Linked DNA regions of Homo sapiens: region 2 is linked to region 1. The links come from fine-mapping of genetic effects on gene expression. A gene starts in region 1. The other region holds a variant in brackets. All regions are shown on one strand. Distances are from middle to middle. Region 1 holds the start of PAMR1 (peptidase domain containing associated with muscle regeneration 1). Region 2 overlaps PAMR1 (peptidase domain containing associated with muscle regeneration 1).

What was found. PIP is the estimated chance that this variant, and not a neighbour inherited with it, causes the effect. A credible set is the group of variants that fine-mapping cannot tell apart.
Region 2: its variant is the best candidate, but not a certain one, in a credible set for the expression of PAMR1 in fibroblasts (GTEx, PIP 0.84).

The regions. Positions count from the first base shown.
Region 1 is chr11:35,517,486-35,529,714 of GRCh38, forward strand. It overlaps PAMR1 (peptidase domain containing associated with muscle regeneration 1), which reads right to left and starts at 8,131. Exons shown (of 11, transcript NM_001001991.3): 1 at 8,028-8,131. The coding sequence starts at 8,100.
Region 2 is chr11:35,438,757-35,450,985 of GRCh38, forward strand. PAMR1 (peptidase domain containing associated with muscle regeneration 1) reads right to left here. Exons shown (of 11, transcript NM_001001991.3): 7 at 2,725-2,937; 8 at 871-937. Among named protein-coding and RNA genes, the nearest start is that of SLC1A2, 25 kb to the left of the region's middle. The variant C/T (reference allele first, on the strand shown) is at 4,467.

The sequences.
Region 1 (12,229 bases):
ATTCCATGAAGCACTAATTCCACTGGATGGTATAAGGTAAAAAGACAAAAAGAGGCTCTGTGGTCAAACAACTTTGTGAAATATTTCATTATAAAAAATGAATTATAGCTTTCTTTACTGCAGGACTCTGCAGAGTCTATAATCTCCAAATCCCCCAGACTTATTTCATCATAACATCCTGGATTCTGTTTACTTTTGCTGAATATCTCCCAGGATTAGCATTTCCTGAAACCCATTTTGGGAAATGCCAAGCTGAACCATCAGTTCTCTCAGTAGATTGCAAGTGCCTTCAGAAAAAGGACTTTGTCCTGTTCATCTTGATATTGCCAACACCTATAACCATGCCTGGCACCCGATAGGGGCTTGATAAGGATTACTAAATAAATACATGAATATGGACATGGGAGCATGTGTGATTCCAAGTGTAAAGGCTATTTGTGACAAAGACCGATGTTAGAATCTTCTCTTGCTGTGACTTTTCAGAGTCTCTATTGTACAGAAAGAGGAATCCATTGGGTCCATTAGTGAATATTTTTGTTGACTGCAATTTGTATCTCATTTCCACGAGGGCTTGAGATACTTACCCATTCTGTTCTACCAGTGCATTGGCCACAGGACCAGGCTTGCCCAAAAGGGAGGCTGAACACCATTGAGAAGCAGGCAGTTAACCCCCTGGGAGGCAAAAAGCCAGACCAAAAAGTGTTGTAATGAGGATTCCTTACCACCAGCCATGTCCTCACTTCTGCTTGTATCCAAGTAAGCAAAGGTAGGTTGAAAATTATAGGAGTAGATGATACCAGGTAGAAGCTAAGCCCAGGCAACTTGTCTTAGGACATTTCAGGTGTTCTCCATCATTCTCGTTAACTTCTAAGGAGGGATCCCATGGTGGATGCAAAAGTCTAAAGGGAGGCTCATGTTTCTTAGACTTTCAAATTCCCTTCTTACCCTTTCCTCTTTAATGGTGAGATATTCTTCCACGTCTTATGCCTTACGGGTGAGAGATCAGAGTTTTCCAAGCTGTATTCCACGGAGCACTAATTCCACTGGATGGTATAAAGGAAAAGACAAAAAGAGGCTCTGTGGTCAAACAACTTGAGGTGATCAGAGAATTAACTGATTACTTCAAGTTGTTTGACCACAGAGCCTCTTTTTGTCTTTTTTTCCCTTATACCATCCAGTGGAATTATAAAGTAAATAGAAGTGCAACTGGATTTGAAAAACATTGATGCTTTAGTTTCTTGGAGTCATCCAACAATTCATTTGATTTCAAGCAAAACAACCCAACATCCCCTCTCCATCCAGTGGTTTTTCATTAAGCTAGCTGGAATTTTTTTAACCCACCATCAATTCAGTGCATGAGGACAGTTGTTGTGTCAGTGTGTGAGGACAATTGTGTCTCACCCGAGCTAAAGTTAGCTAAATGTGTTCCTCACTCTGTTCTGGCAGCAACAGCCTGGTTTTCCAAACATCAAGTCAACTGACCAGACTTCTACTTACAGAGATGCTTGCTGCCAAACCACTAACTCAACCCTCTGAGACAGCCAGAACCTCAGAGAGGGCAATGATAAAGATGCCCAGACTGCAGAAATAAAGGCATTTATCCAACACCAGAGAGAGAAGAGTGAGAGAAATAGTAGTCTTCATAGCTGCTCAGCCAAGGGGGCCACTTCTTTAAATAGCTGACATAAGATCCAGGACACTGGTGTCTGATAGACAGTAGATCCTCATTCAAGGTTGAGATGAATTGGTTAAAACCCATCTTAGGATTAGAGGAAAGGGATTGAGTCTCCATCCCCTGCAATATTCATCAACTATGTTTTGCCAAAAAAGAAGGGGGAAAAATGCTCCCGCTTATTCACTCCAGGTCTGCTCCTCCCATCCCATGGCTTAAGAGTTTACACAGAACACATCCATAAAGGAGCAGACATACACAATGTCAGGGCCACACTGGAATAAATGGTCTCATTAGCAATTCTGTTCCTCTGCAAACAGACATGTGATTTGGATGATAAAAATTTACCATGGGACAAAGAAATTCTCACCTCTCATGTCTACTGGGAGCAAGGTACATGACACCATGGACAGCTGTCCCAGAAACTGGTTGGACTTTTGGTCTGCCTGGCACCCCTGTTTCCTCTAGGGAATGGCTCCTCTTGGGTTCCATGTGGTGCTACTGGGGCTGCTGATGCCTCTGTCTTTTTCCTGCATCCACTCCACCTCCACAGAGGTGAGAACATGACTTGACACAGGCCAATCTGGGCACTTGGGATGTTCCAGGGATAATCAGACACCCTTACTAACACCATGATTTTTTATCATTTCGCCAAAATACAGCCAGCAGATCTGCCACCGTTGGACCTACTGCTTACTGTGGTGGTGGTGTGTCACATTTCAGGGCATGCCTTATGGAGTCAGACTGGATTCAAAAACATGGATATCCAGCTATATGACCTGGGCAGGTACTGAAACCCTTTGCCTAAGCTCTTTTGTGTATGAAGTGGGGGCAAACAACAATAGTACTTACCTCCTAGGTTTGTGGTGAGGATTAAGTAAATATATATAAAGCATATACGGGAGTGCCTAGTGTTTACCACAAACTCAATAAATTATTTGGATAGCCAAACTTGGGATTCATTTCCTTAGGTATGCTAGAATGGAAGCCTCTTCAAAGGTGTTTCCACCATTGATGATTGTATCATCAAGGGTAAAGATGCCTTGATGTGCAACCCCTACTTACTCCACTCTCAACCCACGTGGGCCCTGAGTCTGTCTCATAGACAACTGCAACCAAGTAAAAGGGGTAGAGTTGAGTAGGAGGTAGCAGTCACACTGATTCAGAGATTAATATCTCCAGCCAACTCCAATTCTCTGCCTTCCTTGAGCAGTTCTGTTTACAGGTATGAGATCTGGTGTGTCCTGAATTTTTTACTTCTTTCTCTTCATTTTAATCTAAAGCTCTCGCCCAGGTGTTGAGATGACTGACAAACAGAATTCCTTAAACATAGACCAGGCTTGGAATCTAATAGAGTTTCTGCCACTGATCTGGTGCTTTCAGTTTTCCAGCTGGCCTCTGGGTTCTCTGCCCTGGAATTTAGGAACTGGAAAATGTAAACATTGCATTTCCCTCCCCTTTAAAATAAAAGAGGAGGGAGGCTGGGCTCTTGTGACTTTCAAATATCCACAAAGTGAGGATGACAGCTCCTCCCCAATGAGGGGGGAATGGGGCACAATATTCCCTCATTTATCATGGAAATGGCACTTTTCCCCATTTGCTTACACCCCAAATCAACTGCAGCTTCTAGAGCTGGTCTCAGGGGAGGCAGGTAGAGAAGTTTTCTTTTGCATCAGGATTGGCCACCCCAGTGGGGCAGATGGAAATAATTTTCAGATCTAAGACCTGTCATTAGGTCCCAGGCACCATTATGTTGGCCATTTCTGTCTAGCCAGTATAACCCAGATGTGGATAAGATTAAGTCAAATCCATTGTCCATGCCAATGGCATTCTAAAGCCCTCCCCAAGACTTCTGCATATTCCTGAGGGACTTACGCGCTCTAGGTCACCTCTGCTTCTGGGCTCCCATGTCTAAGGTGCTTTGTTCACAGGTTATTGACCCAGATATAACACCCAGCCCTGTCTTCAGTTTCCACTGAAAGCTTATGCTCAAGGGCATTCATGAAAGTAAAACATTTTACTAAAGAGTTGGAGGTCACAGAGAGAGGTAAGATTATGCTCCATGAAATATACAGATTAAAATATGTTAGACACTGATAAAAGTCTGATGTACCAGATGCTCTGAAAAATCCTGTTGGCCAATTAGTCCTCAGCAGCTGAACTCCCTTGTTTCCCTCCATTCACCATCCAGCCTTCCACCTTCTCCCTCTCATTCCCCCTTCCTGTCCCATCCCTCTCAGAAATGGAGGTCAAAACTTCAAATGCTAGTAAGGATTAGCAGGTATTAAACATATGGGTTGAGAGGTGGAGTGTCAGACCCTAGAGAGGATCCAGCCTACCTCAAGACATTCAGGTTCAAAACACTCTGAAGCACTTGTGTCCTACTAAATAAATTCTGCAGGCCTTTTGGCTCCAAAGGCTGCCAGTTTCTGGTCTATCAGCACAGTCTCCCTCTTTGCCACAACCAGCCAAGAAGCAGCAACAATGCCAGTAAAACAGGAGCTAGCAAGGGCTCTCTTTCCCCTGCTTCATGTGCATCCTGAAACCCTAACAAAGTTAGATGTCCATCAGCATAATCAGTCCATGTGCTGGATGTGTGAATATATGTCCTCCAGGTAACGGAGGAACTTGGGTTCAGAAACTAGACAGCCTGAGCTCACCCTGGGCTCCACTACTCTGCCAGTGTAGTTGTTTATTTATTTATTGTGGAAAATATATACATAACAAAAAATTACCTTTCAAATCGTTTTTTGTTTGGTTTTTTTTTGTTTTGTTTTGTTTTGGAGACAGAGTCTCACTCTGTCGCCCAAGCTGGAGTGCAGTGGCGCGATCTTGGCTCCCTGCAAGCTCCACCTCCCAGGTTCACACCATTCTCCTGCCTCAGCCTCCCGAGTAGCTGGGACTACAGGCGCCTGCCACCACGCCCAGCTAATTTTTTGTATTTTTAGTAGAGACAGGGTTTCACTGTGTTAGCCAGGATGGCCTCGATCTCCTGACCTCGTGATCTGCCCGCCCTGGCCTCCCAAAGTGCTGGGATTATAGGCATGAGCCACTGCGCCTGCCTCAAATCGTTTTTAAGTGCATGGTTCAGTGGCATAAGTACATTCATACTATTGTGCAACCATCACCACCATCTATCTCCAGAACTTTTTGCTATTCCACATTGAAACTCTGTACCCATCAAATAATAACTCCCATTCCATCTTCTCCTGGGCCCTGGCAATTACCACCCTACTTTCTGTCTACATGAATTTGACTATTCTAAGTACCTCATATAAGTGGCATCACAGAACATTTGTCTTTTTGTGTCTGGCTTCTTTCACTTAGCATAAGGTCTTAAGGTTCATCTGTGTTATAGCACGTATCAGAATATCCTTTATTTTTAAGGCTGAATAATATTCCGTCGTAGGTGTATACTGTATCTTGTTTATCAATGGACATTCGGGTTGTTTCCACCTTTTGGCTATTGGGAATAATGCTGCTATGAACATTGATGTAAACATATCTAATCAAGTCCCTGCTTTCAATTCTTTTGTGTATACACCCAGAAATTGAATTGCTAAATCAAATGGTAATTCTATGTTCAATTTTTGGGGGAACCATACTTGTATATCCTTAAACCTCTGTGTATCATAGAACCTCTCTGAACCTCATCTGTAAAACACGGATAATAACAGCAATGCCATTTCAGGGTGGTCTGAGAATTAATGCATATGAAGCCTTTGGCTCAAAGACTGGACACATTAATAAATGTTCACTAAATGTTTGCTTGATGTTTAATCTCTTCATCCTCTGAATTGAGGGACTCATACTAAAATAATTTCTAAAGTCACTCTCAGCTCCTAAACTCCATGATCCCATCATTAAATTATTTTCCTGTTGGGGATGCCAGGAGCTCTCAGATTGTATATTAGGGGAACACCCTCTTCATGATCCCCGCAAAAATCCACCCGTGCCAAGAAGGCCCAATTTTCCTAGCTTTCTCCTAGGAATTTGCCAACATATCCCAGTGTAATCTCACATCTCATTTTTCTTGCCACTCCTTCTCCCTTGCTTTCTTTCCATGTTTCCTTTCTCGGCTGGCTTTTCCTGCCCACTGAATATCTGCACTTCAAATTATCTTCCCTGGTTGCATTTATGTTCATTCCCCACAAGTTAATGTCTGTTGGAAGCAACACTTGTGAAGTTCTCCAGATTAAGTTTTCATTCCCAAGAGTCCCATATTTTAAATGAGGTTTTCCTCTTCGGCAGAATCACACTGGCAGAGCTACCGCAATTTGGTGAAGTCAGTGGAGTTGGGTTTCTCCCCTCATTCTGTTTATGTTGGGTTATCGCTTGGCCTCATGTTTGGATTCTCATCCTCCCAACATGTGTCACATGCCAGTGAGAAACAACACTCTCTGGTACCATCCCAGTGGATGTTTACAATTCAGCAAATACTCTTTTTAGAAAAGTTAATTAGAGGAAATACGCTTCCAAGCTTTTCTTGCCTGGGGCCAGATTCAGCATCCCAGCAGGGAGTGGACTTCCTTCACTCCTTGAGGAAATATTTTCCTTCTCCACGCTATTCCTCCGTCTTCCCTCGAAATGTGAGTAAAACATTCAACAACTAAAATATCCTTGCTAAACACATGAAGCTGCGCTCTGGTTCAGGCAGCAGTTTAGCTACCAACAAACTGCGTATCCTCTCTGAAGCTTTTTCACAGCCAAAGGTAAAAGAGGTTCTCGGGTCAGAAATAAATGGATTTTTCAGATTCTGGGCTAGGAAAAAGAGCCAGCTCAGGTTTTTTTATTTTCTTTTAAACTTTTATGGCTTTGAAGCGCCTCACCTGCCATGTAATAAAACAGGAAGCAGGGGAACGCTGATGTAACCCTGAGGAATCAAATCCACTGAGCCCTGGCACTCTGAGAAGAACCAGGTCCTCTGGAGCTGGTCCACCGACACCATGCAAAGGCGAAGATGAAGTAGGGAGGTGCCTTAATGCAAAGTCACCCACTTACCCCTAGGCAAGTGTTTAGGTTTATGGATTGTCAGCCCTTATGAAGGGCTCCTTCTTCCTTTATTATTGTCTTTGGGCTGCTCCAGACACCATGGAGGCAAAATTCAAATGAAACACTCACCATCTTTATTGTAAATCATTAAGGAAGATCCTACCTGGGCAGGCAGGCTCTAGGTAGATGGAAAGTATTGACCAAAATGAAGGGCAGGGGGGTTTGTGTATCTCAGCTTTTCGTTGATCATGAAGGGATGTGCCTATGGCTAAGTTTCCCTTCTACACAGGTTATTGCATTTAGTATCCTCCCCACCCGACCTGGCCTGTTTCATTCTCAGGCACTTGCCAGCTACTTGCAGCGGCAGAGCACCCAGCTCTCAGATAGAGTTCAGGTGACAGGTAACCAGCACAGAAGGGAAGCAGCGAAGGCTCGTACATAACCTGCCCCTATTCAGAGCTGCCCCGTTTGGTCATTTCTGTACATCTCGGCCTGCCCTCATCTCATGAGGTCTCACTTTACCCCCTGGGCCATAGAAGGACAGATGTTCCTATGACGTTCCCACTTCCCCGCCTGCCAGCAAGCAGGATCTGCCATGTCCTCGCTTCTGCCCTTAGCTGGATCTCCGTATCATGTCCCAGCCTCATTTGTCCCCAGAAGCCCATTTGACCTGGGGATTGTGGCTTAGAAAATGATATATGAAAACCAAAGAAGCCAGAGCTCTTTCAAAACAAACCCTATGCATCCCAGAAACAATCTGCACTTTTAACCTTGGCTTTTTCTTCTTTCTCACTCTCATCAGAAAGGAAGTGTGTCTATATATGCTGAGTGAGTCAATCTCCTGTGCTTGGATCTACTCCGAAGGGGTATGGCTGTAGGAGTTCGTGAAGCAAGATTCACCAGAAGAACACCAAGCAAGCCCTGCTCTTTATTCCTTTCTTTCTTTCCCTCTCTTCTTTCTTTCTTGCTCACCTCTGAGGGAGCCCTTTCCAAGAGAAACTTCGCTTTTGCAAGTCAGAGCGGGTAACTCAGAATTGATTCCCTAAGGCAATTTGGTACTTTTAAAATGATAAAAAGAGCAAATAAAATAGGAGCTGGTCCGCTTTCCTGAGACAGTACAGCCCCACGATTTGGGATGACAAAACCACGTCACAGTCTCAGGGAGGGCCACAGGAGCTCCAGCACCACCAGCCAAGTCCCTAAAATTATCACTGGAAAAGCACCACCCCCCCTCAACCCCTCACCCCAAACACACACAGCCCACCTCCTGAGACTCCCAGTCCTGCTCCCAGGCAGACCCCAGGAGGAAAATGCTCCCTCCTAGGGTGTCCTCCTAGGGTGTCCCGGACGCTACTCACAGTACCTCTTGGCAAGGACGAGATGAGAAGGAGCTGAAGAAAAGTGAGCCCCAACTGCGTCCAGCAACCCAGCTCCATCCTTGCCGCGGCTGGTGCCCGAGCGTCTACTGGGGAGGGAGAGGAGGGACCCAGGGAGGCCGGGGGCAGGCGGGTTTTACAGGGACCTCCCCGAGCCCCAGCTGAGCGGGAGCTCGGGTTTCAGCTCGCCAGGCTCTCCCATCCTCATCTGAGGGGAACCACCTTCAGCCAGAGCGACGTCAGCCCAAACCTCTCCTCTCTGCTGCCTTAACCCTTGCGGGGCCCCGGGAGGTGTGGCCACGCCTGGAGACCCGCGGACGGCGGCTGCAAAGGAAGCTGCGGGGGAGGGAGGCCAGCCTGGGTACAGGTGGGGTCCCAGTGTTGGGTGCTGGGAGGAGGGGCCATAGGACCCTGGGCGGGAGCAGAGGTACCCAGGGCTGCGGGGCGCTCAGGTGAGGCCGGGAGATCTTCCTACGGGAGGCTGAGACGGGAGCTGGCTTTGCCCTCTCTGACTGCACGCGGGGAGCCTGATTAAAAGCCTGGCCTGAGGAGAAGGAGGAGTTGGTGATGGGAGGAGAAAGGGAGCCTCCCTCCACTCCGCACGCAACACTCCTCGTTTATCTCCTTTCCTCTCCGTTTGCTCCAGGTGATCACAGGTTGGAAAGCTTATTATCTTTTGCAACTACAGGCTACTGGAAAAAGTTTTCCTCTTCCTATGATCCCCGTCATGGTGAATTCAGCGACATAAGCAGCTCCTGAGCTACTGGAAAAAGTTTTCCTCTTCCTGTGATCCCCACGATGGTGAATTCAGCAACATAAATAGCTCCTGCGCACACGCCAGGCAGGGATGGCGAAGAACACACAAGAACCCTCACTGCCTCCACCAAAAGGGCTCAGTTTAGGTACAAGATAGCAAGTGACATCTCGAAATGAGGAAGAAGGATGTTTCATAATAGGTGACTTTTTAAAATAAACTCCTCCGTGCCAGGTGTCATGTACCTTACATGTATTAACTCAATTATTCCTCACAATAAACCTAGCCTCTGTATTTTACAATTAGAGAAACGGAACCATTGAGGATTACAATAACTCATCCAAGGCCACACAGTTAGTGAGGGGCAGAGCCAGGGTTTGAACCCGGGCAGCTTAGGCCCACAGGCTATAGTCTTAGCCACTAGGCTATAGAGCTTCTTAGGATGCTACATATGCAGAATTGTATTTCACCATTTGATATGGCTTCGCTGTGTCCCCACCCAAACCTCATCTTGAATTGTGGTTCCCATAAACCCCACGTGTCATGGGAGGGACCAGGTGGAGATAATTGAATCATGGGGACAGTTACCCCCATAAAAGTTTTAATTTTGTTCTCTAGATGTTGGCGGGCCCTGGTGGTTTACAAGTAGGGTGTGCTGAGCTCAAAGCAAAGTCTCGGGAAGAGAAGTCACCCTGGACTATTGATGAAGGCCTGGAGTAAGGATTAAGAAATGGAAGTGGAAGGGAAAAGATAAGGGGAGAAACCTGAGGAAGGTAGAATCTGTAAAGCTCAGGACAGATCAGAAGGTCAGGAGCCCTGACACAGGTGCTCTACTAGAAAGAATTTCTGAACTCCAGCCCTGCTTCTGGGGGCCTATTGCAGTGAAGTGACTGGAAGCAAGAACTCAGCAGGCCTGTGTTCTAATTTTGTTGATTCACCACTTTCTGGCTGTGTGACCTTAAGCAAGTTAACTCTCTGAATCTCAGTCTTCTCATCTATAAAATGGAAATAATAATCAAACCTACTTTGTAGATCACTGGAAGAATTTAATAAGATTACGCATGTAAGGCCCATAGCACAGAGCCTACCACATATTAAGTGCACACTAAATATTAATCATTATCTCTATTATCTGACCTGAGACTGCCCCCAAGAACATCTCATGGTATGAGTCTTGTTCCTACACTCAACTTCCATATCGAGATGAAATCAGTTAAAATAAGCACCAAGAGTAGCCTTAAACAGGAGCAGAATACCAGAGGGCAGCATATACCTAAGAGGTAGAGGGCAGAGGTTCGAAGAAGGGAGGTTCACCTTGTTGCTGGCCAACCAGTCCTGGTCCTTTGGTGATGGGAGTGGGAAGAAGATGACTTAGTTCCCAAATAACTGTAGGCATAAGAGCCTCTCAGGAGTCTGTTTCAACTCCAGCTGACGGCACCTGAGCTTTACAGATTCTACCTTCCTCAGGTTTCTCCCCTTATCTTTTCCCTTCCACTTCCATTTCTTAATCTTTACTCCAGGCCTTCATCAATAGTCCAGGGTGACTTCTCTTCCCAAGACTTTGCTTCGAGCTCAGCACACCTTACTCCTAAACCACCAGGGCCCACCAACATCTAGAGAACAAAATGAAAACTTTTATGGGGGTAACTGTCCCCATGATTCAACTATCTCCACCTGGTCCTTCCCATGACACGTGGGGTTTCTTTTCATCTTCCCTCTCCCCACCTCCCAGCCCCCACCACACACACCTCTCTGAGTCAATACCAAGCAGCCTCATCCCTACATGAATTGCATCCCCCTGACAGAATGGGGCTCTAAGTGATGAACCTGAAGGATAGCAGTCTATACCACCCCCAAATATGCCCCTTTGGCATAAGGATTATTTTGAGCTGAAAGCAGTTAAGAAGAAGTAGATACAAGAATAGGTCTCTGTTCTCCCCCCATTTTCCTAAAAGCAGACTTGAATTTATAAAAGTATAGTGTCTCCACCTCCCCTCTCTACCAGGACGGACAGAAGTTAATCATTGGAGACAACCCTAGACCCTTATCAGCCCAGAGGAATCTACATACCAAAACTTACTAACTAGTCTTATCTCCCATTAGGACCCCCATTTATTTATCTTCCCATAATTTGCTACCCCTAGAAGCTCAAAGTCCTTTTTGTTTGTCTTGCCACTTCTCTGCAAATTTATTGTTCTTTTTAAAAATGCAATATGAACCCAAATTCTAACCATCTCTTTGAGTTACTCCTCACTAGGTATTTCAACATGTAAGCACCATGCACAAGTTAATAAAAAACTTTTGTTTGTTTTTCTCTTGTTAATCTGTTTTTTCTTTTTTTTGTCATTCTAATTTACAGGGCCACAGCCAAGGAATCTAAGATGGGTAGGGAAGAAAGATTATTTTTCCTTCCCAACAAACCTGTTTGGCTATTTGCTAAGGAAGTCCCTGGTACCAGGTCTTTACTTCTCTAGGTTCAGGGGTCTGGAAACAGAGGCCCTTCTTCTGTTTCTGGAATCCCCTTCAAGAGTTGATTTGTTAGTTTGTTGTCACTAATTTGGGTTTGTAAATTTCCTAGAGCTGAGGACCTGGAAAGAAACTCTCAAAAAGATGCTCTGCAAAGGTGGAGGATGTATTTTTCTGGAGAAGTCAAAGCAGTAATCAGATATTACCTTGTTGAACTGCACAATAATCCCAGGGCTGGAAGAGAAAGAGGAGAACTGTTATTATGACACAGAAAAGTCAGTAGTTTACTGAGGACATTCAGCCCTACACAAATTTCTGTTTTCCTACACAAGTTTACCTTTCTCTGTCCCCATTATGGTCAACTGCATTTTTCATATTGATAGAGTTTAGTATTGTTCTAAATCAAGGATTCTTAATCTGGAAGCTCCTGGTTGAGATGGGGTTTTTTGAGGGACTTTGAATCTTCCAAAATCATATGCAAATTTTTGCATGCAGGTTTTTGAATAAGAGGGAGCCATAGCCTTCTCATTTGCAAACTCCCAACTTTTTTAGAATCACTAATCTTCGTAAGTTAAAATTGAAAAATGGACCAAATATTTCTCAGATTTGGGGAAAGTGATTTTGTGAATATATACAATCATTGAGTCTAGGCTATAAACTGCACAGTGGACATTTGGAGGGCCCTCTCACCTCCTCCTCACCTTTAAAAAACTATTTCTGACTTAAGAGCACTTGCTCTGGACCATACTGACTAATGTTGAATGCAGATGGACCACTCGCTACCTGTGTACACTTGGGCATGTTATTTCACATATGATGGCCTTGGTTTCCTCATCTGTTAAGTCTGAAGAATAGTACCTGTTGCCATTAGGGCTAGAGTAAAGAGCTCAAAACAGTGCCTAAAATATACTAAGATATCAGTAAATGTTAACTGTTTCTGTGATGCTTATCTCCCCCTCTGCCCTCACC
Region 2 (12,229 bases), 79 kb before region 1:
ATGCTAAGATAAAAACAGAAACAGACTACAGGCTAGAGAATTCTGGGTAAAGGGGTCCACTAGACAGTCAGGGTGAAGATAGGATTGCTATCTTTAAAAGGATATTTAGGGAAGATCTCTCTCTGTTAGGCAAAAACTGAGCAGAGAACTGAAGGAAGTGAGGCAATAAGCCTGAGATCTTGTGGAAGCAGGCTCCAGACAGAAGGAGCCACAGTGTAGTTTCCAAAGCAGAACTGTGCTTGGAGTGATAGAGGAAAATCAAGGAGGCCCGTGTAGCTGAGTGGAGAGAGTGAGGAAGAGAATGTAGAAGAAATGAGTAGAAAGGGGCTACTCCCTCCCCACCAGGTGGACCCCACCTTTGTCTTCCCAGGAGGAAGGTTGAGCATACCAGAGGGGCTCACATCCTTCTGCATGGCTGGTCATTTGTCTCTAGTTCTTGGGCTCCCCCAGCCTGCCTCATCTCACTGGTTACCTCCAAGCATATCTTCCTAAATTATAGCTGACTGTGTTTAACAGAAATGTCATCTTCCTAGAAGCTACCATAACAAGTACATAGTAATTTCAGGAAGACTCAAGGATTCAAGTCCATTTTCTCAAAGATCATCTGAAAGTCTTGCTTTCCACCGGTCATCTACTTTCCCACGATCCAGTGAAATTTGTACATCTTCCAACAGTTGCTACCTCTTGGCTAAAGGCAGCTGGCTAATAAGCCTCCATCTAACAAGCCCTATTATTTCATGACCAGTTAGCACTAAATGTCCCTAAGAAACCTCAAACTGACTATCTTTGGCCAAACACAAGTGGGGAAGGGGAATGGAAGGGGAAATACTCATTAGCCTTCAGGGCAGAGTGCAGGTGTTTTGACCTCACCTTGACTGAACCTGCATCGGAAGAACTCTCCTTCTCACCAGGTCTGAAATCTTTGGTTCTCGGCAGGCTAGAAATAAAAAAGACAATGCTGCATGATCCTTTTCCATATTCACTGTTCATATCATTCAGTTCAGATTCATACCTGACCCCCACTTCTGGACACCAGGTGCCCATTCCCCAGGCTCTCAGAGGCAAGACATGTCAGCCAAGCTTGAACATCTCACTTTACAAAAGAGCTTGGTGCATTTCATCTTGATTGACAGCACCCTCTGAAGAATCCAAGAAGAGCAGATGCCTCTGAAAGGCTGCCCCACCTGAGTGATTTGGGACAATGGCATCATAGATTAGGATCATCTGTTCATGTGAATGTAATTAGCAAACTTGATCAAAATGGAATAAAAGTCAAAGTGAAGGTTCTAAAACATAGCCCACATGGGGAATTAGAAGGTTCTCTTTTGACACCAGACAGCAGTGTCAACCATAGATAAGTCTTGGAAAACTGATTCCTCCATGTTCTTTCTCTGCTGTTAAGGCCCCTAACAATCACTTGAGGGCAATTCAAAGCCCAGTTTAATTTTGTTGAAGTCTCTCTTTCTTCAAGAATGAAAAGGAATCCTTCCCATCTCACTTTCCCAATCAGGCAGCCAACATTCATCTAATTAGCAACTTAGAGAACTTTGGTTGTATTAATTTGTAAGAGAAGACTGGACAAAAATCTCCAAGGACATATGTGACACCGTTCCCATACTTAATGAAATAAAAATCAGAATTTGTGCTGGTGGGGATGAAGGTCGCTTCTGGCTAAAGTCTAAAGTGATTTATTCCTTTCACAAACCATTCCCTTTCATTCCTTTTCCCATGATTCAGGTTGTTGACAAACACCCAGAAGGCAAAGTGGAGGATTAAGACAATTATCCGGATAATCTAGGACAAGGACATGTTTTCTTCCCAGTAAACAGCCAGATCATTGTGGCCTGCCCCCAAATAGAGAGGATGTTAACCTGAAGCAACTAGTGAATCAATTCAGTGAGAAACTATGCATCCCCACTGCCAATGGGGAAGGTTCAAACTTCTCTATACAATATTCCACTTTTCTGTCCAACCTACATATTTAAGTTTACCCCTTGATTCCCAGATTGCCTCACTTTGAGTTTACCATGATGACTTCACTTCTGCCTACACCTCTTTTCTTTTCTGCTGTCTTCCATTTGGAATACCATCCCGACTCCTCTTCACATCTACAAATCCTCTCCAGCTTTCCAGACTGGCTCCAGTCCTACTGGATTCATGCAATTGTCCCTATTTCAGGAATGCTGATCTCTCCTTTTGCTGAACTTACACCACTCATCTCTTCCTATAACTATCCCTTGAATGTACAAGGGTTTACTCTCTGTCTTTGTTTTTAAACATCTTAACATCTTCAATCCTCCCCCTCCATAGGCTGGCAGGGATGATGTGTCTATTTTGTTCTTTTATTTCTCACATCAACTTAATATTGCATAGAAAGTAGATAAGTGGAGCTATGTACATGCTTATACATTGCCTCAATTCTATACTTGGATTTGCATATATTAAACTCAGCCCTGTCATCTTTCCTAAACTGCTCTGATAACTACATTCCTCTTCTTGATCACCTCAAGGTGTTGTGATTAGGGAAAGCAGGTCCTCTTGAGGTCAAAAAAAAAAAGAAGCAAATATTTTTAGGATGGTTTCCAACCTCAGAGATATATGGTTTCAGAAAGGACTTAAAAGAGAAAGGCATTTTTCCAGGGGCTTAAAAACATGCAAAGGAGCTACCAAAAAGTCTAGCAACTTCATCAATGTCCGTAGACTTCAGAAACAATTGTAAGTTACCTTTTATGCAGATGGGCTGTTTCCCTGACCACTCTCCATTCTGCTGGCAAGTTCTTTTCTCATTGCCACTAAGAACATAGGAGTTGTTACAAAAGAAAGACACCACGGTGCCAATTTTAGCATGGCGTCCGTTGATAAGCCCAGGGCCCCCTGTTATTTTCTGGTACCCATTGACTGGGCCCCCAGGGTCTGAGCAGTTTCTTTCTTCAAGGACTAAAAGAAAGTAAAAGAAAAGGAGAATTGTTAAAAGTCTGAGTTATTCCATTTTAGAATAGAATCTTTCATGTTTCATTGAACTAAAAATACAATGATATAGGATCTGGTGCTCAAAAGAATTACTAAAATAAATCTCATAATAGAAAATTCATGTACTAGACATGTATTTCCCCTGTTTTCATAATTTATTCTTAAATTGAAAAATCTCATTCTATATATAAATAAATTTGATGCCAAATCTGGCTCTTATATCATCTTGTCCATTTCTTTCTCAAACTGTTGGAACTAGGCAGCCCTGAGTAAAATAAATATCTCACCTAAATTTTATTATCGGTATACAAGGATTATTGTTTTTCAGTGTTGTTGTATTATCTCCTTCATTCTTTAAAGCTTGGGCAATTAAAAACTATTCCATTTCCTATTTGTATTGTACCCAGAAAGTAGAGCTGCTTAGAAATAAGAGTACATACATAAAGTGAATTTAGATTTTATATTTAATCTCTAGGAAAATAAGTGTATTGAAAGTTATAGTTAAAAATACTACAGAACAATATAATTGTAGAGATACAATAAATTTCCCTTGATCTCCAAATATAACTTTCCATCTAAGTATTTGATATTCATTACAGAGGTATTTCTATTCTTTGAGTCCTGTTGAATGGCTATTAAAGTAGAAATGGCATCAGCAGCTATTCTGAGCACTAAACAGGATTTTTAGATATATTCTGGAAATATTCTATCAGATAGGTAACATATTTCTCTCAAATAGATTATGACACTACTGAATATGACTTGCCTAAGGAAGCCGAGCTCCCATAGAATTCAAACTTCTACTACTTGATTTGGGTACCAATCACTCTATCAACCTATCAGCCTCCCTACTTTCTTTTTTCTTTTTTTTTCTTTTTCTTTTTTTATTTATTTATTTATTTTGAGACATGGTCTCACTCCGTCACCCAGGCTGGAGTACAGTGGCGCAATCTTGGCTCACTGCAAACTCCATCCCCTGGGCTCAAGTGATCCTCCCACCTTAGGCTACTGAGTAGCTGGGACCACAGGCACACACCAGCTAATTTTTGTATTTTTAGTAGAGATGGGGTTTCACCATGTTGCCCAGGTTGGTCTTGAACTCCTAAGCTCAAGCTGTCCTCCCACCTTGGCCTCCCAAAGTGCTGGAATCACAGGTGTAAGCCACCATAACTGACCTTAGTTTCTTTTTTTTAATATAAATAATTTCAACTTTTATTTTAGATTCAGGGTGTACATGTGCAGAATTATTACCTGAGTATATTGCATTATGCTGAGCTTTGGGGTACAATTGATCCTGTCACACAGGCATTGATTATAATATCCAGTAGTTCTCAACCCTTGCCACCTTTTCTGTCTCCTCTTCTAGTAGACTCCCTGGTTTCCTTAAAATCATTTATTCTAAGACACAGACAGGCTCATCCCTATAAAACAGTCTCTGTGCAATGCAACTGTGCTTTTTTTTTTTCCTTCCTTCTTTTTATTTTTATTTTATTAAG[C/T]TCCGGATACAGGTGCAGGATGTTCAGGTTTCTTACATAGGTAAACGTGTGCCATGGTGGTTTGCTGCACCTGTCAATCCATCACCTAGGTATTAAGCCCCACATGCATTAGCTGTTTATCCTGATGCTCTCCCTCCCCTCACAACCCCCTGATAGGCCCCAGTGTGTGTTATTCCCCTCCCTGTGTCCATGTGTTCTCATCATTCAGCTCCCACTTATGAGTGAGAACATCCAGTGTTTCGTTTTCTGTTCCTGCATTAATCTGCTGAGGATAATGGCTTCTAGCTTCATCCATGTCCCTGCAATGGATATGATTTTGTTCCTTTTTATGGCTGCATAGTATTCCATGGTGTATCATGTACCACATTTTCTTTATCCAGTCTATCATTGATGGTCATTTGGGTTAATTCCATGTCTTTGCTATTGTGACCAGTGATGCAATGAACATACATGTGCATGTATCTTTATAATAGATTTATATTCCTTTGGGTATATACCCAGTAATGGGATTGCTGGGTCAAATGGTATTTCTGGTGCTAGATCTTTGAGGAATCACCAAATTAGTTCAATCACCTTGAAATAATTTACATTCCACCAGCAGTGTAAAAGTGTTCCTATTTCTCCACAGCCTTGGCAGCATCTGTTGTTTCTTGACTTTTAAATACTCGCCATTGCGACTGGCATGAGATAGTATCTCGTTGTGGTTATTTACATTTCTCTAATGATCAGTGATGTTGAGCTTTTTTCAAATGTTTGTTGGCTGCATAAATGTCTTTAAAATTCATAAGGAAGCAAAAAGACCCCATATAGCCAAGACAATCCTAAGCAAAAAGAACAAAGCTGGAGGCATCATGCTAACTGACTTCAAATTATACTATGAGGTTATAGTAACCAAAACAGCATGGTACTGGTACAAAACCAGTACCTTTGAGAAGTGTCTGTTCATGTCCTTGGCCCCCTTTTTAATGGGATTTTTTTTTCTTGTAAAGTTGTTTAATTTCCTTGTAGACTCTGGATATTAGACCTTTGTCAGTTGGATAGGTTCCAAAACTTTTCTCCCATTCTGTAGGTTGTATGTTCACTCTGATGATAGTTTATTTTGCTGTGCAGAAGCTCTGTAGTTTAATTAGATCCAGTTCGTCAATTTTTGTTTTTGTTTCAATTGCTTTTGACGTTTTTGTCATGAAATCTTTGCCTGTGCCTATGTTGTATGGTATTGCCTAGATTTTCTTCTAGGCTTTTTATAGTTTTGGATTTTACATTTCAATCATTTTTCCATCTTGAGTTAATTTTTGTATAAAGTGTAAGGAATGGGTCCAGGTTCAATTTTCTGCATATGCCTAGCCAGTTCTCCCAGTACCATGTATTAAACAGGGTATCCTTTCCTCATTGCTTGTTTTTGTCAGGTTTGTCGAAGATCAGATGGTTGTAGATGTGTGGTCTTATTTCTGAGGTCTCTGTTCTGTTCCATTGGTCTATGTGTCTGTTTTTATACCAGTACCATGCTGTTTTGGTTACTGTAGCCTTGTATAGTTTGAAGTTGGTTAGTGTGATGCCTTCAGCTTCATTCTTTTTGCTTAGGATTGTCTTGACTATATGGGCTGTTTTGTGTTTCCTTGTGAATTTTAAAATAGTTTTTTCTAATTCTGTGAAGAATGTCAATGCTAGTTTGATGGGAATATCATTGAATCTATAAATTACTTTGGGCAGTATGGCCATTTTCACAATATTGATTTTTCCTATCCATGAGCGTGGAATGTTTTTCCATTTGTTTGTGTCCTCTCTGATTTCCTTGAGCAGTGGTTTGTAGTTCTCCTTGAAGAGATCTTTCACTTCCCTTGTTAGCTGTATTCCTAGGCATTTTATTCTCTTTGTGGCAATTGTGAATGGGAGTTCATTCATGATTTGACTCTCTGCCTGTCTGTTGTTGATGTATAGGAATGCTTATGATTTTTGTATATTGATTTTGTGTCCTGAGACTTTGCTGAAGTTGCTTATCAGCTTAAGAAGCTTTTGGTCTGAGACGATGGGGTTTTCTAGATATAGGATCATGCCATTCACAAACAAAGAAAATTTGACTTCCTCTCTTCCTGTCTGAATACACTTTATTTCTTTCTCTTGCCTGATTGCCCTGGCCCGAACTTCCAGTACTGTGTTGAATAGGAGTGATGAGAGAGGGCATCCTTTTCTTGTGCCAGTTTTCGATGGGAATGCTTCCAGCTTTTGTCCATTCAGTATGATATTGGCTGTGGGTTTGTCATAAATGGCTTTTATTTTGAGGTATGTTCCTGCTTTACCTAGTTTATTGAGAGTTTTTAACATGAAGGGATGTTGAATTTTATCAAAGGCTTTTCTGTGTCTATTTAATCATGTTTTTTCATCTTTAGTTCTGTTTATGTGATGAATTATGTTTATTGATTTGCAGATGTTGAACCAGCCTTGCATCCTGAGGATAAAGCCAACTTGATCGTGGTGGATAAGCTTTTTGATGTGCTGCTGGATTTGGTTTGCCAGTATTTTATTGAGGGTTTTTGCATTGATGTTTATCAGGGATATTGGCCTGAAGTTTTGTTTTTTTGTTGCATCTCTGACAGGTTTTGTTATCAGGATGATGCTGGCCTCATAAAATAAGTTAGAGAGAAGTCCCTCCTTTTCCATTGTTTTGAATAGTTTCAGAAGAAATGGTACCAGATCCTCTCTGTACTTCTGGTAAAATTCAGCCATAAATCCATCTGGTCCTGGGCTTCTTTTGATTGGTAGGCTATTAATTACTACCTCGATTTCAGAACTAGTTATTGGTCTATTCAGGGATTCAAATTCTTCCTGGTTCAGTCCTGGGAGGGTGTATGTGTCCAGGAATTTATCCATTTATCCTAGATTTTCTAGTTTATTTGCATAGAGGTGTTTATAGCATTCTCTGATAATTGTTTGCATTTTTGGGGTTAGTGGTGATATCCCCTTTATTATTTTATATTGTGTCTATTTGATTCTTTAATTAGTCTCTCTTTTCTTCTTTATTAATCTAGCTAGCTATGTATTTTATTAATTTTTATTCAAAAAACCAGCTCCTGGATTAGTTGATTTTTGGAAAGATTTTTTGTGTCTCTATCTCCTTCAGTTCTGCTGTGATCTTGGTTATTTCTTGTCTTCTGCTAGCTTTGGAGTTTGTTTGTTCTTAGTTCTCTAGTTATTTTAGTTGTGATGCTAGGATATCAATTTGAGATCTGTGTAGATTTTTGATGTGGGCATTTAGTGCTATAAATTTTCCTCATAACATTGCTTTAGCTGCATCCCAGTGATTCCGGTATGTTGTCTGTTTGTTCTCATTGGTTTCAAAGAACTTCTTGATTTCTGCCTTAATTTCATTATTTACCCAGGAGTCGTTCAGGAGCAGGTTGTTCAATTTCCATATAATTGTGTGGTTGAGTGAGTTTCTTAATCTTGCATTCTAATTTAATTGTGCTGTGGTCTGGGAGACAGTTTGTTATTATTTCAGTCCTTTTGCATTTGCTGAGAAGTGTTTTACTTCCAATTATATGATCAATTTCAGAGTAAGTGCTATGTGGCACCAAGAAGAATGTTTATTCTTTTGTTTTTGGGTGGAGAGTTCTGCAGATATCTATCAGGTCCACTTGGTCCAGAGCTGAGTTCAAGTCCTGAATATCTTTGTTAATTTTCTGTCTTGATGATCTAATATTGACAATGGGGTGTTAAAGTCTCCCACTGTTTTTGTATGGGAGTGTAAGTCTCTTTTTAGGTCTCTAAGAACCTGTTTTATGAATCTGAGTGTTCCTGTATTGGGTGCATATATGTTTAGGATAGTAAGCTCTTCTTGCTTAATTGAACCCTTTATGATTATATAATGCCCTTCTTTATCTTTTTTGATATTGTTGGTTTAAAGTCTGTTTTGTCAGAAACTAGCATTGCAGCCCCTGCTTTTTTCTGCTTTCCTATTTGCTTGGTAATTTTTCCTCCATCCCTTTTTTTTTTTTTTTTTTGAGATGGAGTCTCGCTCTGTTACCCAGGCTGCAGTGCAGTGGTGCGATCTCGGCTCACTGCAAGCTCTGCCTCCCAGGTTCATGCCATTCTCCTGTCTCAGCCTCCCGAGTAGCTGGGACTACAGCCACCTGCTACCACGCCCGGCTAATTTTTTTCTATTTTTTAGTGGAGACAGGGTTTCGCCATGTTAGCCAGGATGGCTCGATCTCCTGACCTCATGATCTGTCCGCCTCGGCCTCCCAAAGTCCTGGGGTTACAGGCGTGAGCCATTGCGCCTGGCCTTCCTCCATCCTTTTATTTTGAGCCTTTCTGGGTCTTTGCATGTGAGATGGGTCTCTTGAACACAGCACACCAATGGGTCTTCACTCTTTATCCAGCTTGCCATTCTGTGTATTTTAATTGGGGCATTTAGCCTATTTACATTTAAGGTTAATATCGTTATGTGTAAATTTGATCCTGTCATCGTGATGCTCGCTGGTTATTTTGCAGACTTGTTAATGTAGTTGTTTCATAGTGCCTTGGTCTGTCTACTTCAGTGTGTTTTTGTAGTGGCTGGTGACAGTTTTTCCTTTCACTATTCAGTGCTTCCTTCAGGAGCTCTTGCAAGGCAGGCCTTGTGGTGACAAATTCCCTCAGCATTTGCTTGTCTGAAAGGGATTTTATTTCTCCTTCACTTATGAAGCTTAGTTTGCCTGGATATGAAATTCTGGGTTGGAAATTCTTTTCTTTAAGAATGTTGAATATTGGCCCCTAATCTCTTCTGGCTTGTAGGTTTCTCCTGAGATATCGACTGTTAGTTTGATGGCATTCCCTTTGTAGGTGACCTTGCCTTTCTCTCTGGCTGCCCTTAACATTTTTTCCTTCATTTCAACCTTGGAAAATCTGAGGATTATGTGTCTTGGAGTTGACATTCTTATGGAATATCTTGCTGGGGTTCTCTGGATTTCCTGAATTTGAATGTTAGCTTGTCTTTCTAGGTTGGGGAAGTTCTCCTAGATGACATCCTGAAGTATGTTTTCTAGCATGGCTCCATTCTCCCTGTCTCTTTCAGGTACCCCAATCAGGTTTGGTCTTTTTACATAATCCCATAGTTCTCAGAGGTTTGGTTCATTCCTTTTCATTTTTTTTTTCTCTAATCTTGTCTGCCTGTCTTATTTCAGCAGGATAGTTTTAATGTTCTGAGATTCTCTCCTCCATTTTGTCTATTCAGCTATTGATACTTGTGGTTGCATTGTGAAGTTCTTATGCTGTGTTTTTCAGCTCCATCAGGTCATTTATGTTCCTCTCTAGACTGATTATTCTGGTTAACAGCTCCTGTAGTGTTTTATCATGATTCTTAGCTTCTTTGCATTGGGTTAGAACTTACTCCTTTAGCTCATCAAAGTTCATTATTACTTACCTTTTGAAGCCTACTTCTGTCAATTAATCCATCTCAGCCTCAGCCCAGTTCTGTGCCATTGCTGGAGAGGTGTTGCAATCATTTGGAAGAGAAGAGACGCTCTGGCTTTTTAAATTTTCAGCACTTTTATGTTGATTTTTTCTCATCTTCATGGGTTTATCTACCTTCAATCTTTGAGGCTGCTGACCTTTGGATGAGATTTTTGTGGGGTCTTTTTTGTTGATGTTGTTGTTGCTTTCTGTTTTTCTTTTAACAGCCAGGCCCCTCTTCTGCAGGGCTGCTGCCGTTTGCTGGAGGTCCACTCCAGACTCTATTCACCTGGGTCCCTCCCACACCTGGAGATATCACCAGTGGAGGCTGCAGCAAAGCAAAGATGGCTGCCTGCTCCTTCCTCCAGGAGCTCCATCCCACAGGGGCACCAAACTGATGCCAGCTGGAACTCTCCTGTATGAGGTGTCTGGCCACCCTTGTTGGGAGGTTCCACCCAGTCAGGAGGCACGATCAGGGACCTGCTTAATGAAGCAATCTGGCTGCCCCTTGGCAGAGCAGGTGCACTGCACTGGGGGAAATCCCACTCGTCTGGACTACCAGCCACCTCAGAGCCAGCAAGCAGGAAAGACTAAGTGTGTTGAACAGGAGATCATGACTGCCTCCCCACAGAGGATCTGTCCCACTGGCCACCTCAGAGCCAGCAAGCAGGAAAAACTAAGTGTGTTGAACAGGAGATCATGACCGCCTCCCCACAGAGGCTCTGTCCCAGGAAGACTGGGGTTCTGTCCGTAAACCCCTGGCTGGAGTTGCCGGAATTCCTGAAGGGAGGTGCCACCCAGTGAGGAGGGATGGATCCAGGTCCCACCTAAAGAAGCAGTCTGGCCACAATCTGCCACAGCTACTGTGCTGCACTGTGAGGAATTCTTCTCTGTCCAAACCGTCCGATCTTTCTGGACCAGCAGGGGAAAATGGCCAACTGAAACCGCAGTGATGGCTGCCTCCCCTCCCCCTGGGAACTTGGTCATCTTAGGCAGTCTCCAGCCTGCTGCCACTGGCCACAACCCAAGCAGCCTCCGAGAGACTGCACAGCTCTGTGCTTGAGACCAAAGGCCCTGGTGGCATGGGCTCACAAGGGGATCTCCTCATCTGTGGGTTGCACAGATCCATGGCAAAATTGTGGTTTCCCTGGCAGGGTAGCACATCACTAACTGCCTCCTTTGGCTGGGGTGGGAGTTTGCCTTACTCCATGCAGCTCCCGGCTGGGCCATCACTCCACTCTGCTTTTCCTTGCTTTCCATGGGTCATGACAACCACCTAGTCAGTCTCAATGAGAGAACCTAGATACCTCAGCTGAAAGTGCAGGATTCACTTGCCATTTTCATTTTTCTCAGTGGGAGCCACAGGCTAGAGCTGCTTCTAATCAGCCATCTTGGCCCCCACAATTATGCATTTGATAAGCTTTCTTTCCTGTAACTGTCCCAATTGCCTTCCAAGAAACTTACTTGGCTGCCTCCAGGCAAAAAAAAAAAAAAAAAAAAAAAAAAAAAATCTCTATTCAGATAACACCTCTAAAATATTTGAGAATTAAAAATAAATAACTTTCCTATGTGCAACTTGGCAAGGCTGCAACAATTAGCCAAATCACCGGTTTGTCCACTCTAAGACCGTCCATAGACTATGCGTAAGTTAATCTCAATGACACTCTGTATGCCTTTGGACTATGTAATATCAGCATTTTTTTCTGGCAAATGAATCCAAAGCCCCCATTTTATTAATAAGTATAAAAAAGGGACCCCACTGAGTAAGCTGTTTAAAAATACTGTGATGGTATAAAAAGGGTAATGGGTTTCTTAATGCTTCAAGTGGACTCACAAAACTCCAGTGCTTACATTTTCAGAAATGCCTCCATGATGTGGGAGGAAAAGGCAGATAAAGCAGTCCATGTTGCTTCACTGATGGTGGTAGCTTCTAATAGCACAGATTCATTCATTCTGAAAATTGAGCTTAGTAAGCACCCACTGGGGCCCACAGACTGAAATTGTCTCAAAAACATAATATGTTATGCTTGAAAGTTTTATAAAATGGAATTCGTTGCAGACATAAAAATTGGGAGATTTCATTTAAAAATCTATATTATTCGTTTCTAACATAATTCAGATCTGAAATCCTGGGCCTGTATTCCCATATAGCAATAATCAACTGGAGTTGAAAAGTGTCTTTGCTTAGAAGAGAGCCCTATTCTTCACAGCCCCCAAGGGCTGCCTACTTCTAGCAGGCATGTGAATCTGCAGCCAATTAGCCTATTAAAGGGCTACAATTTGTGTAAATTAAGTGGAGCTCCCCATCGATTTTGACCATTGCTAGCTAGAGCTCA